2 separate regions of the Homo sapiens genome follow, and region 1 is linked to region 2. A link means that fine-mapping ties the variant in region 2 to the expression of a gene that starts in the linked region. Tissue or cell type: whole blood. Region 2 holds a variant in brackets; the other region holds the start of a gene. All regions are shown on one strand. Distances are from middle to middle.

Evidence for each region.
Region 1: LITAF starts here. The variant in region 2 is fine-mapped to the expression of LITAF in whole blood (TOPMed, PIP above 0.99). The same link has a PIP of 0.9 or more in blood mononuclear cells and monocytes.

What each region holds. Positions count from the first base shown.
Region 1 is chr16:11,584,141-11,589,620 of GRCh38, forward strand. LITAF (lipopolysaccharide induced TNF factor) reads right to left here and starts at 2,779. Exons shown (of 4, transcript NM_001136472.2): 1 at 2,746-2,779. RefSeq lists an enhancer at 1,533-1,642 and silencers at 2,543-2,622, 2,653-3,132.
Region 2 is chr16:11,611,769-11,616,976 of GRCh38, forward strand. It overlaps a transcript of LITAF not described here. Among named protein-coding and RNA genes, the nearest start is that of LITAF, 27 kb to the left of the region's middle. RefSeq lists enhancers at 2,008-2,057, 2,025-2,319, 2,218-2,427, 2,563-3,170, 3,171-3,778 and a silencer at 3,242-3,415. The variant G/A (reference allele first, on the strand shown) is at 2,171.

The sequences.
Region 1 (5,480 bases), 27 kb before region 2:
TCAAAAATATGTGTGCTAAAGAAACACAGAACTAAGGAAGTCTATTTACCTGATAGACCGCCTCACCCACGGGGCTATTTTCACTGCTGTAAAAGCGAAAACAAATAGAGGACAAGTCACAGTGCCAAGAATACAGGACTTCCTCTTGCAGATCCTCTTTTTTCCACCCTCACTGTAGCTCTGGGGAAATTCCTATTCAGTGGGAGAAGTTTAAGTCACAAAACGGCACCAGCCCATTCTCAAAGTGCTATTATACACCTCTGAGCAGTGAGGATGGGTAATGTCAGCAAAATATGCACTGTTTATTTTCTTGAAAATTAACTTGGGCTGGAAACGCCTTCCAGCTCCTTCCTCTCAGTGGATTTTCCATTTACTGTCTTCAACCACCTGGGCTTGTCTGTACCTCTTCCACAGCTCTACTGAGACCCTCCTGTTTGTCTGAACTATGTCCTCATGTTCCTTCTGCCACATGTGCTCAGGCCTCAGTTTTTCCATGAAACTTTCTCTAACTTAGCTGCCTCCTTTCCACTGTTCTCAAGCCCTTTCTGGAGTTACAAGGGCATTAGCAAGCACCAGCTTTTTCGCCGGTGTGTGTTTCTACTTTCTACCCATTGCGTAAACCCCTCAGGACCAGGAGCCATTCTTCTGCATCCTTTACACGGCAAGGGTAGCGCTTTATTTCTCAACAGCCCGCCCATAAAAGGAACGGAAGTAACAAAGGGAAATGTATTCCCCAAAGACAGTGAATTACACTTCAATCTACTATTTTAGAGACTTAAGAAATGGGCCGGGTGAGGTAGTTCACACCTGTAATCCCAGCATTTTGGGAGGCCAAGGCAGGTGGATCACTAGAGGTCAGAAGTTCGAAAACAGCCTGGCCAACATGGCAAAACTCTGTCTCTACTAAAAATGCAAAAATTACCTAAGCATGGTGGCACCCAACTGTAATCCCCGCTACTTGGGAGGTTGAGACACTAGAATTGCTTGAACTCAGGCAGGGGGTTGAGGTGGGGTGGGGAGGGTTAGAGGTTGCAGTGAGCCGAGATCGCACCACTGCACTCCAGCCTAGGCGACAGTGAGACTCTGTCTCAAAAAAAAAAAAAAAAAAGAAAGAAATTGATCCTACGTCTTAGATCAATCACCCAGTCACTTAATCTGTGAAAACATTACAAGATACTTTCTCAAATGTGAATAAATGCATCAATTATTCATGCCTTAAAGTAACAGGAAAGAGGGAGATGGGCCTCCCTCATGGTAGATTACAATTAAATGTTTCTTAGAGAGTTTGGTGCACATTTAGTTCCCAGAGCAAGGGCTGGTGGAGAAGAAAGCCAAGTGCAATATGGGTGTTACTCTATGCCAGGTAAAGCAAGTCACACGCCATCTAGATCCTGCTCCAACTGATAAAACCAAAACACTGGTGGAATTCCAGATACCAGCCTGCACTTCTCTCTGTAGGCATCTGGGTTAGTCCTAAATAGGAAGTCCTAAAAAGAGTCACTCTGAGAAGGCAGGGGGTGAGAGGGCAGATGAAGCAGCCAAGCACACATTAAGGCAAATCATGGCTTTCCTAAAGAGGACCCCAAGCTGGGCTTCAGACAGTCTTTGAACCAGCACCAGTGCACCAGGCCAAGGGGAGGGAGGCATCCTCTTTGGGAAGACTGGTAGGAGCTTGGAAGACCCCGTGGCTTCCACAAACTGTAGATTTCCCAGTGACCACTGCTCAGTCCAACAGCCAGTGACATCAGCTCCACTGTCGGGAAGTAGAAAACCAGTGAAGGTCCAACTAGCCTGGTCCCTGAAGCATGACTGGCCCTTCCAGAACATACACCTTTCCCCTATCACCTCCTCTCCCTGACCCCGAAGAGCTTCGGGCACACCACCAACTGACCACCTATCCACAGTGACCTGCAAACCAGAGCGGGGAGGGTATTTGCCTAGCTTGGCAGGGAGGGGCGAGATCCACTTCTGCCACCAGTCACCAGCTGGTCCCACCAGCACCTACCCAGCACCGGCGGTGGACGGTGAGCGGCGTCTGGGCCCAGAGCTGGGTGCCATCAGCAGTAAGAGGACCCCTGCGCTCGCGGGGTGCCCGCCTTACCCCGCGGGGAGGGGTCAGGCCTAGGGGCCACGGCCCGCTTCGCTCTCTGATTTTCACCTCCCCAGGGTCTCCCAGGGGCCTCGGGTGTCCTTCCCGGATCTTGCGCGAAGTCGCGGGGGCAGGGAGAGAAACGCGGGTACCCGCGCCCCTAGAAGTCAAATGTTTGGCAAATAGCATTTGGGAATTCGTTGGGGTTTTTTTGTTTGTTTTGGTTTTGTTTCTGAACCCCCGGGGGATATTTCTGGAAATCTCAACCTGAGTCACTAGAGAGAATCGCGCCTTTTTCTAAAAAGCCCAGGGGCCGTCCTCTCCGGGGAGGGGGACGCGGCGGGCCGCGAAGGGCGCTCGTTCGGGTGGGGGCCGGACGACCCCGCCACGCGCGATCGGGCCACTCTGGGACGCAGGAGCTGAACCCAACCGGAGACGCGGCCGGGACCAGCGCTGGGAGGCCGGACCCCGCCCCGGCCGGGCCCCCACGCCCTCCGCCGCGCCTCGATGCCCGCGACCCGACCCGCGCCCCCTGGCATCCCAGGAGGCCCCAGCCAAGGGCTCAGTGCCCGGGGCCCCCAGCAGGTGCTGGCGCCACCGGCCCCCCGCTGTCTCCCGCTGGTCCCCGCGCCCCGGCGTCCCCGCGCCGCACTCACCGCCGCCCGCGCCGCCTGTCGAGCCGGGAGGTCTGAGCTGGCCTCTCGGGCGCCCCGAGAAAAGGGCCGGGCGGCGGGGACGGGGGCGGGGGCTGGACCCGCCGGGGCGGAGCGCGGCCGGCTTGGGCTTCCGGCTTCTCCCGCCCCCGCGGCCCGCACCTGGGCCCCAGGCGAGACCACCGCCGGTTCCCCGCCTCACTCTGATCGCCCCCAGGCTCCATCCCACACCCGGCTCGCTCGCCACCCCAGAGCTTCCCAGGCTTACCCCCGAGACGCCTGGCGCGGACCTGGTGTCTCCCCCACTCTCCTATCCTGCCCCTGCCTCTCGGTGCCAGCCCCACCCGTCCGCCCCCGACAGCCTGGCCCTCCCTCCTGATTTGCCGCTCGCGGCTCTCCCCACTTTCCCCCCTCCCCGCGCCGCTCCACCACTTCCAGGCGGCGGGACCACCAACCTCGACCCCGGACCCGCGCTGGGGCGCTCCCGGCCCTCTGGAGGGCGGCCCTTCTCTTCCTGTAACTCTACAGACGCGTCCGGACAGACCAAGACACTCTCTGTGCCTTCGGGCATGTTACCCATCCTCTCTGAGCTCGGCTTCCTGTCTGCAAAATGGGCACAATAGCGGTCCTGTCTCCTAAGACCGACTGGGAGTGAACTGGGAAGATGGTAAAGTTTTTAGCACAGGATAGGTATTAGGTAAGGCTTATCAGCTGCCTGTCCGCTTTGTGCCCCCAGGGTGGTCCGTGCCGCCAGGTAGGCCTTTCTCAGCCATCACTGAAAGCAAGCTCTGGAAATCAGTAGCCCCATTTCACATCCGCCCCTAAATGGGTGCCATCTGCCCGTCTGCTTGGAGCCCCATCGGCCGGCTGCAGTGATAACAGCAGCAGCCTGGATCCAGCAGGCTCTCTGGGAAATCATTAGAGGGAATTAAGAAGCATGCCTGGCTTTCAGAGTACACAGAGTCAGGAGATGGGCAGAACCATGATGTGGCCATCCACAAACAAACGCCATTTGGACAGGGAGCTTCCGAGCCCCATGCTGGCAAAGACCTGGATCTTAGAACCCTCCGGTGCCCAAATCCCATGCCTTTACCCGAGGTCCTAAAGATAGTGAGGCCCAGATAGGGAGTGTGGCTTGTCCCGGGTCCCTCAGCAAAGTGTCCCCAGCCCCAAGTTCTTGCCACCTTGCGCCATGTCCACTGACGGGCCACCCTCAGCCGTGGACGAGTTACCAAGTTGGAAGGGATTTCAAAGTTCTCCCAAGCATAGGAGGTTCCCATGTAGATGTTATTAGTGTGGGCAACATTTTACTGCTTTTAAAATATGAAGGGGGCGGGTGCAGTGGCTCTTGCCTATAGTCTCAGGACTTTGGGAGGCCATGGCCAGAGGATCTCTTGAGCCCAGGAGTTCAAGGCCAGGCTGGACAACATAGTGAGACTCCATCTCTATAAAAATTTTTTTAATTAAAAGAATAATAATAAAGCGGTGGAGTGGTGGCATGTGCCAGCTACTCAGGAGGCTGAGGTGGGAGGATTCCTTGACCTCCGGAGGTTGAGGCTGTAGTGAGCTATAATCGAGCCACTGCACTGTAGCAAGCAAGCAACAAAGAAAGAAAGAGGGAAAGAGGGAAAAGAGAAAGAAAAAAAAAAGAAAGAAAAAGAAGAAAGAAAGAGAAAGAAAGAAAGGGAAAAGAAAGAGAAGGAAAGAAGGAAGGGAGGGAGGGAGGGAGAAGAGAAGAACAGGAAATTGGATTACACCCAACCTCTGCCATTCCTCCATTCTCAGGATGCAACCAAGGCTTGCAAAGGTACCAATTATTATACTGACATTAAGACAGAATATCACAGACCATTGCTAGGGAGACATAACACCTAGGGAAAATCTCTCAGAGATAACGTTCAAGAAACATCCCTGTATGAATGCTTTTCTTCCTTCCTTCCTTTCTGTCTCTCCCTCCCTCCCAACCTTTTCTCCTTCCTTCCTTCCTTCCTTCCTCCCTTCCTCCTTTCCTCCCTTCCTCGCTTCCTCCCTTCCTTCCTGTAAAAAGCAGTAGTAAGCCTGAATTTTCTTCTGTCCTTTACTGAATACTACCACATCTTCATTTGTTTTTCTTTCCCCAACTGCTGAGCAGCAACAGGAGCCAGCTTTGTGTTTTTATCCATCCTAAACACTTACCACGGCTGTGAGCTTGCAATTATTTATGGGGAGAGCTATAAGACTGTAACTCTTTTCTTTGATCCCCAAAAAACCACAGAGATTGAATTTCCAACCCAAGGCTTCCAACCAGGGGGTAAAAGTAAACTGGGCCACGTGATCATCTCAATAGACGGAAAAAGCATTTGAAGAAATCCAATAATGCTTTCATGATTAAAAAAATAATAATAAACTAGAAATAGAAGGGAACTTCCTCAACCTTAGGGCTTCTATGAAAATCCCAGAGCTAATGACACACTTAATGGTAAAAGACTGGAAGTTTTACCCCTAAGAACAGGAACAAGCCAAAGTGCCCACTCTGGCCACCTCTGTCCAACATTGTCCTGGAGGTTCTGGCCATTGCCATTAGGCAAGAAAAATAAAAGCATCCAGATTGAAAAGGATAAAGTGAAGCTATCTCTATTCACAGGTGATATGATCCTATATGTAAGAACCCTAAAGAATGTACTAAATACCTATTAGAGCTAATAAACCAGTTCAGCAAAGTTGTGGGATTTAAGATTAACATACAAAAATCAGTTGCT
Region 2 (5,208 bases):
TCTCCTGCCTCAGCCTCCTGAGTAGCTGGGATTACAGGTGTGCGCCACCATGCCTGGATAGTTTTTTTGTATTTTTAGTAGAAACAGGGTTTCACCATGTTGTCCAGGCTGGTCTCAAACTCCTGACCTCAGGTGATTCGCCCACCTCGGCCTCCCAAAGTGCTGGGATGACAGGTGTGAGCCGCTGCGCCTGGCCCTCCCATTTCGACTGTTGTGGGGTCCCACAGGATATGGAGTGTGACAACAACCCCCATCCAACGCAACTTAATGGCTTCCTTCTTCCTTCTTCCCCTCGGGGCTCGGAAATCACCACTCGCCTGGCAAAGAGGGTTATGTGGGTGCCCACACAGCCATGTCACTGAGAGGGTGGAAACAGGGTCTCAAAGTCCAAGGATCTCCTGGCACTGCCCACACCGCCAAAGCTCAGGACAGCCAACCATGTGCCAGGTTTGCTCAGCCCAGATCTAAAACGGGGGTCTCTCCAGTGAGTCAGACCAGGTCATTTCCCAGCCCAGGGACTCTGTGACTCCTGGGAGCCGCAGCAGGCTTTGGCTGCACCGTCCTCATCATTCTTGTGAAAAGGGGCCACCTGGGGGGCAGCCTGGAGGGTTGGTGAAGAGGTGTCTCCCTCCCTGGCTTGGCCTGGGCTCTCTGGAAGGCAGGTGAAGAATGAGGAAGGAAGGGCCTTATTGGGCAACTCCCAGCAGGTTTCTGTGGGAACGGCTGTCTGACCTCGTGTGGGTCACCTGCGGTTAGAGCAAACTGCACTGCATGCGGCCAGCGGGCGGCCAGGGCCGGCCCAGCTCAGGACGCTCACGTGCACAGAGAACCTGGATGGAAAGTTAACAAGGCCCAGGCAGGAGCCCTCGCAGAGACAGCAGACCTTCCCACCCCACTCCCAGCCCAGAACTGGCCACCCACTTCCCCACCCCATTCTCCCCTGACATCTCTGTTTGTCCACGTCCTTGAGAAGGGCGGAGGGACGAGGACAGACTGAAAAGAGATGTTTGGAGGATGAGTCCGCCCTCTTGGGGAATGATTTCACTGTGGAACCAAGCTTGGTTACACCAGAAGCTCTTGGGCACCATCTCAGGGACTCCCATGGCTCCTGAAGACTTGTGGGAACCCTGTGTCCCCCTAGAATCTTGACCTCCCAACCCTGCAAAAGCTGTCATCTTGGGGCACAGCCGATGGCCTGGGTGCCTCTTGATGGGCAAGGCCAGCCATTCAGGTGCTTCACTCTAGGTTTTTCTTTGGATTTTTTTTTATTTGTTTTTTGGGGTTTGTTTTAGATGGAGTTTCGCTCTGTTGCCCAGGCTGGAGTGCAGTGGTACAATGTCGACTCACTGTAACCTCCATCTCCTGGGTTCAAGCGATTCTCCTGCCTCATCCTCCCGAGTAGCTGGGACTACAGGCACCTACCACCACGCCTGGCTAGTTTTTGTATTTTTAGTAGAGATGGGGTTTCACCATGTTGACCAGGCTGGTCTCGAACGCCTGACCTCAAGATCACTCTAGTTTTTGTTTCCACTTCTGGATCCCCATGGGATGGAGAGAGACGGGACACTCGCATTGACAGAGAGACCAGACCTCCTGGGTCACCTGGGGGAATAAGCAATGCAGCCAGCTGCCAGGTCCCAGGGCTGCCTTCTCCTGACCATCTGGGCAATTCAGACACAGCTGGGTCTGAGGTGCCAGAGTGTGTTGTTCCGCCTGTTTAGACCTGCCCCACCTCGAAGACATCGGTGATTCACAATCTTCCCTAGAACGGACAACTCCTGGAGGGTGGGGCCCCTGCTGATTCAAACTGGGCTCCTATGAAAGCTCCCAGAGGGTGAGGGCAGTCAGGGAAGGCTTCCAGGAGGAAGTGGCTCTTGTTGAAGGCTAAGCCAGAGTTAGGTGGGAGAGGAGCAGGAAAGGTGTCCTTACAGGGAGCACAGCCGGACGGAGGGTGTGGCGTGTGCCGGCTAGGCAGTTCACACTGGTGGAACCGAGGGCACAGAGGTGGCTGGGGCAAAGCCCAGACAGAAAGGACATCTCAGAAATGAGGATCTGTACTCCGAGAGCCGGCCTCACCCTGCCACATGTTGTCAGATGACCGGGCGGGCCACTTCTCTCGCTGAATGTTTATTTCCTTATCTCTAAAACGGAACTGACAGTTGAGATCAAC[G/A]CCTGTGTTCTGTGGGGTCCCTCTGCTTCCTGGCAGGTCCTGAGATTTGGACACTTGCACATGACTCATTCATTCCCAGCAACACCAGTCAACAGTGGAGCCGTTGTGCCCATTGTACAGACGGGGCAGCTGAGGCTTGTGCAGGCTCAGAAGGATGTCCTAGTCTCTCTCACTCTCCTTTCTCCCTCCTACGGATGCTGTGACAAATGACCACAAACTAGGTGGCTTAAAACAACAGAAACTGATTGTCACAGTTCTGGAGGCTAGAAGTCTGAAATCAAGATGTCAGCGGGCTGGTCCTTCTGGAGGCCTTCTCCTTCTCCTTCTCCTTCTTCTTTCCTCTTCTTTCTTTTTCTTTTCTTTTTTTTTTTTTTTTCTTGAGACAGAGTCTCACTCTGTCACCCAGGCTGGAGTGCAGTGGCACAATCTTGGCTCACTGCAACCTCCACCTCCCAGGTTCAAGCAATTTTCCTGCCTCAGCCTCCCAAGTAGCTGGGATTATAGGCACACACCACCAGGCCCGGCTAATTTTTGTATTTTTAGTAGAGATGGGGTTTCACCATGTTGGCCAGGCTGGTCTCGAACTCCTGACCTCAAGTGACCTGCCTGCCTTGGCCTCCCAAAGTGCTGGGATTACAGGCATGAGCCACTGTGCCCAGGCTTTTTCTGGTTTTTTTTTAAGATGGGGTCTTACTCTGTCACCCAGACTGGAATGCAATGGCACAACTTCAGCTCACTGCAACCTCCACCTCCAGGGCTCGAGATCCTCCCATCTTGGCCTTCCAGAGTGCTGGAATCACAAGTATGAATCAGTGTGCCCGGACTGTTTTCACCTTTCAGCTGTTACAAATATCTTCTTACTTCCTCTGATATGCCTACTAGAAAATTTAAACTTGCCCAGTGGCATGCATTACCCTGCAGCTGGACCAGCTCTGTTCTAGACGGCAGGCAGTTCTAACGGCAGGGAGTCAGTTCAGTGATTGTCATGACAGCGAATGCATGGCTTCCAGGACCCTGTGGCCCGCTGTCAGATGGGGCCGGGTCTGAGTGCCTCACTCACAGCTGCTTCTCCAGCACCCAGCCCAGCAGCTGGCACGGGGTGGATGACCAGTCGGTACACACTGGGAGAATGAATGAATGAACAAAGGAAGGAAGGAGAGACCAAGCTGGGGCTCTAGGAGAAAACGAGGCAGGAAAGTCCCAGGGGACAGTGGCTGAGGAAAGAACAGAGATCCCAGGAAGAAAAGCGACACCCAGAGCCCCATCTACCCTGGGGTGTAAATGGCATGGGCAACAACTCAGAGGAAAAGTAAAGACCTTGGGTGCGGTGGCTCACGCCTGTAATCCCAGCACCTTGGGAGGCTGAGGCAGGTGGATCACCTGAGGTCAGGAGTTCAAGACCAGCCTGGTCAACATGGCGAAACCCCGTCTCTACTAAAAATACAAAAATTAGCCTGGCATGGTGGTGCATGCCTGTAATCCCACCTACTCAGGAGGCTGAGGCAGGAGAATCGCTTGAACCTGGGAGGTGGAGGTTGCGGTGAGCCGAGATCACACCATTGCACTGCAGCCGGGGCAAAAAGAGTGAAACTCCGTCTCAATAAATAAATAAATAGCCAGGTGTGGTGGTGCATGCCTGTAATCCCAGCTACTCAGGAGGTGGAGGTTGCAGTGAACCGAGATTGCACCACTGCACTCCAGCCTGGGAGACAGAGTGAGACTATGTCTTTAAAAATAAATAAATAACTAAAATAAAATAATAAAAAAAGAAAAGTGAAGACCTATGTGGTATAATAAAAAGTATCTGCTTGGTCTTTGTTCCCTGTCACTGGTTCCTGGCACAGAGCTGCCAAAGCCCTTGGACCCTCCTCAGTGATTAGAGTATCTTTCGTATGCTAATGGGATGACTCAAGATGACTCAGTGTGGGGGTACCTAGATAGCTTTGGAATGCTTAGAGGGTTAGAAGGTTCAGTTCACCCACTCCTCACCTCTGGGGAGGGGAGAGGGACTAGGAGTTGGGTCCAATCACCAATGGCCATGATTTAATCAATTATGCCTACGTCACGAAACCTTGATAAGAACCACTAGATAGGTTTCTGGGAGCGTTCAGGTTGCCAAATACATCCACTACCTGGGAGGTGGGGCACCCCAACTCCACGGGGACAGTGGCCCTACATTCAGGGCCCTTCCAGACCCCACCCTATGCTCCTGTGCATCTGGCTGTTTGTATCTTTTATAATAAACTGGAATAGTGCTGGACACCGTGGCTCCCACCTGGAATCCCAATGTTTTGGGAGGCTGAAGCAGGCAGATCCCTTGAAGCCAGGGATTTGAGACCAGCCTGGGCAACATGGCAAGACCCCATCTCTAAAAAAATTTTTTATTAAATTAGCCAGGCATGGTAGCACGTGACTGTGTTCCCAGCTACTCAGAAGGCTGAGGTGGGAGGATTGCTTGAGGCTAGGAGGTTGAGGCTGCAGTGAGCTACGATTGTGCCACTGCACTCCAGCCATGGGTGACAGGGTGAGACCCTGTCTCAACAAAACAAAACAAGAAAAAAAAAAAGAAAAAGAAAGGGGCTTATGATGAATAACAAAAGATGTACCTCTCATCTTTGCCACTCAGGAAATTACGAGGACCTTAGAAGCTCTGTCAGGTACGTGAGGCAAAGACCAAATACATATTTCCTATTGTATCACAATATCACAGGCTACCCTCTGGCCTTTGAACACAAATCCCTTACAGTCAGATGATCATAAACATCAAAAGATGCCCGGAGTGGGCAACATAGGAAGACCCCATCTCTACAAAAATTCTTAAAAATTTACCGGGCATAGTGGTGCACACGTGTGGTCCCAACTACTCAGGAGGCTGAGGCAGGAGGATCACCTGAGCCCAAGAGGTTGAGGCTGCAGTGAGCTGTGACTGAGCTACTTAACTCCAACCTGGGAAAGAGAGCAAGACTCTATCTCAAAAAAAAAAAAAAAAAAAAGATGCCAGCAGGGCGCAGTGGCTCACATCTGTAATCCCAACACTT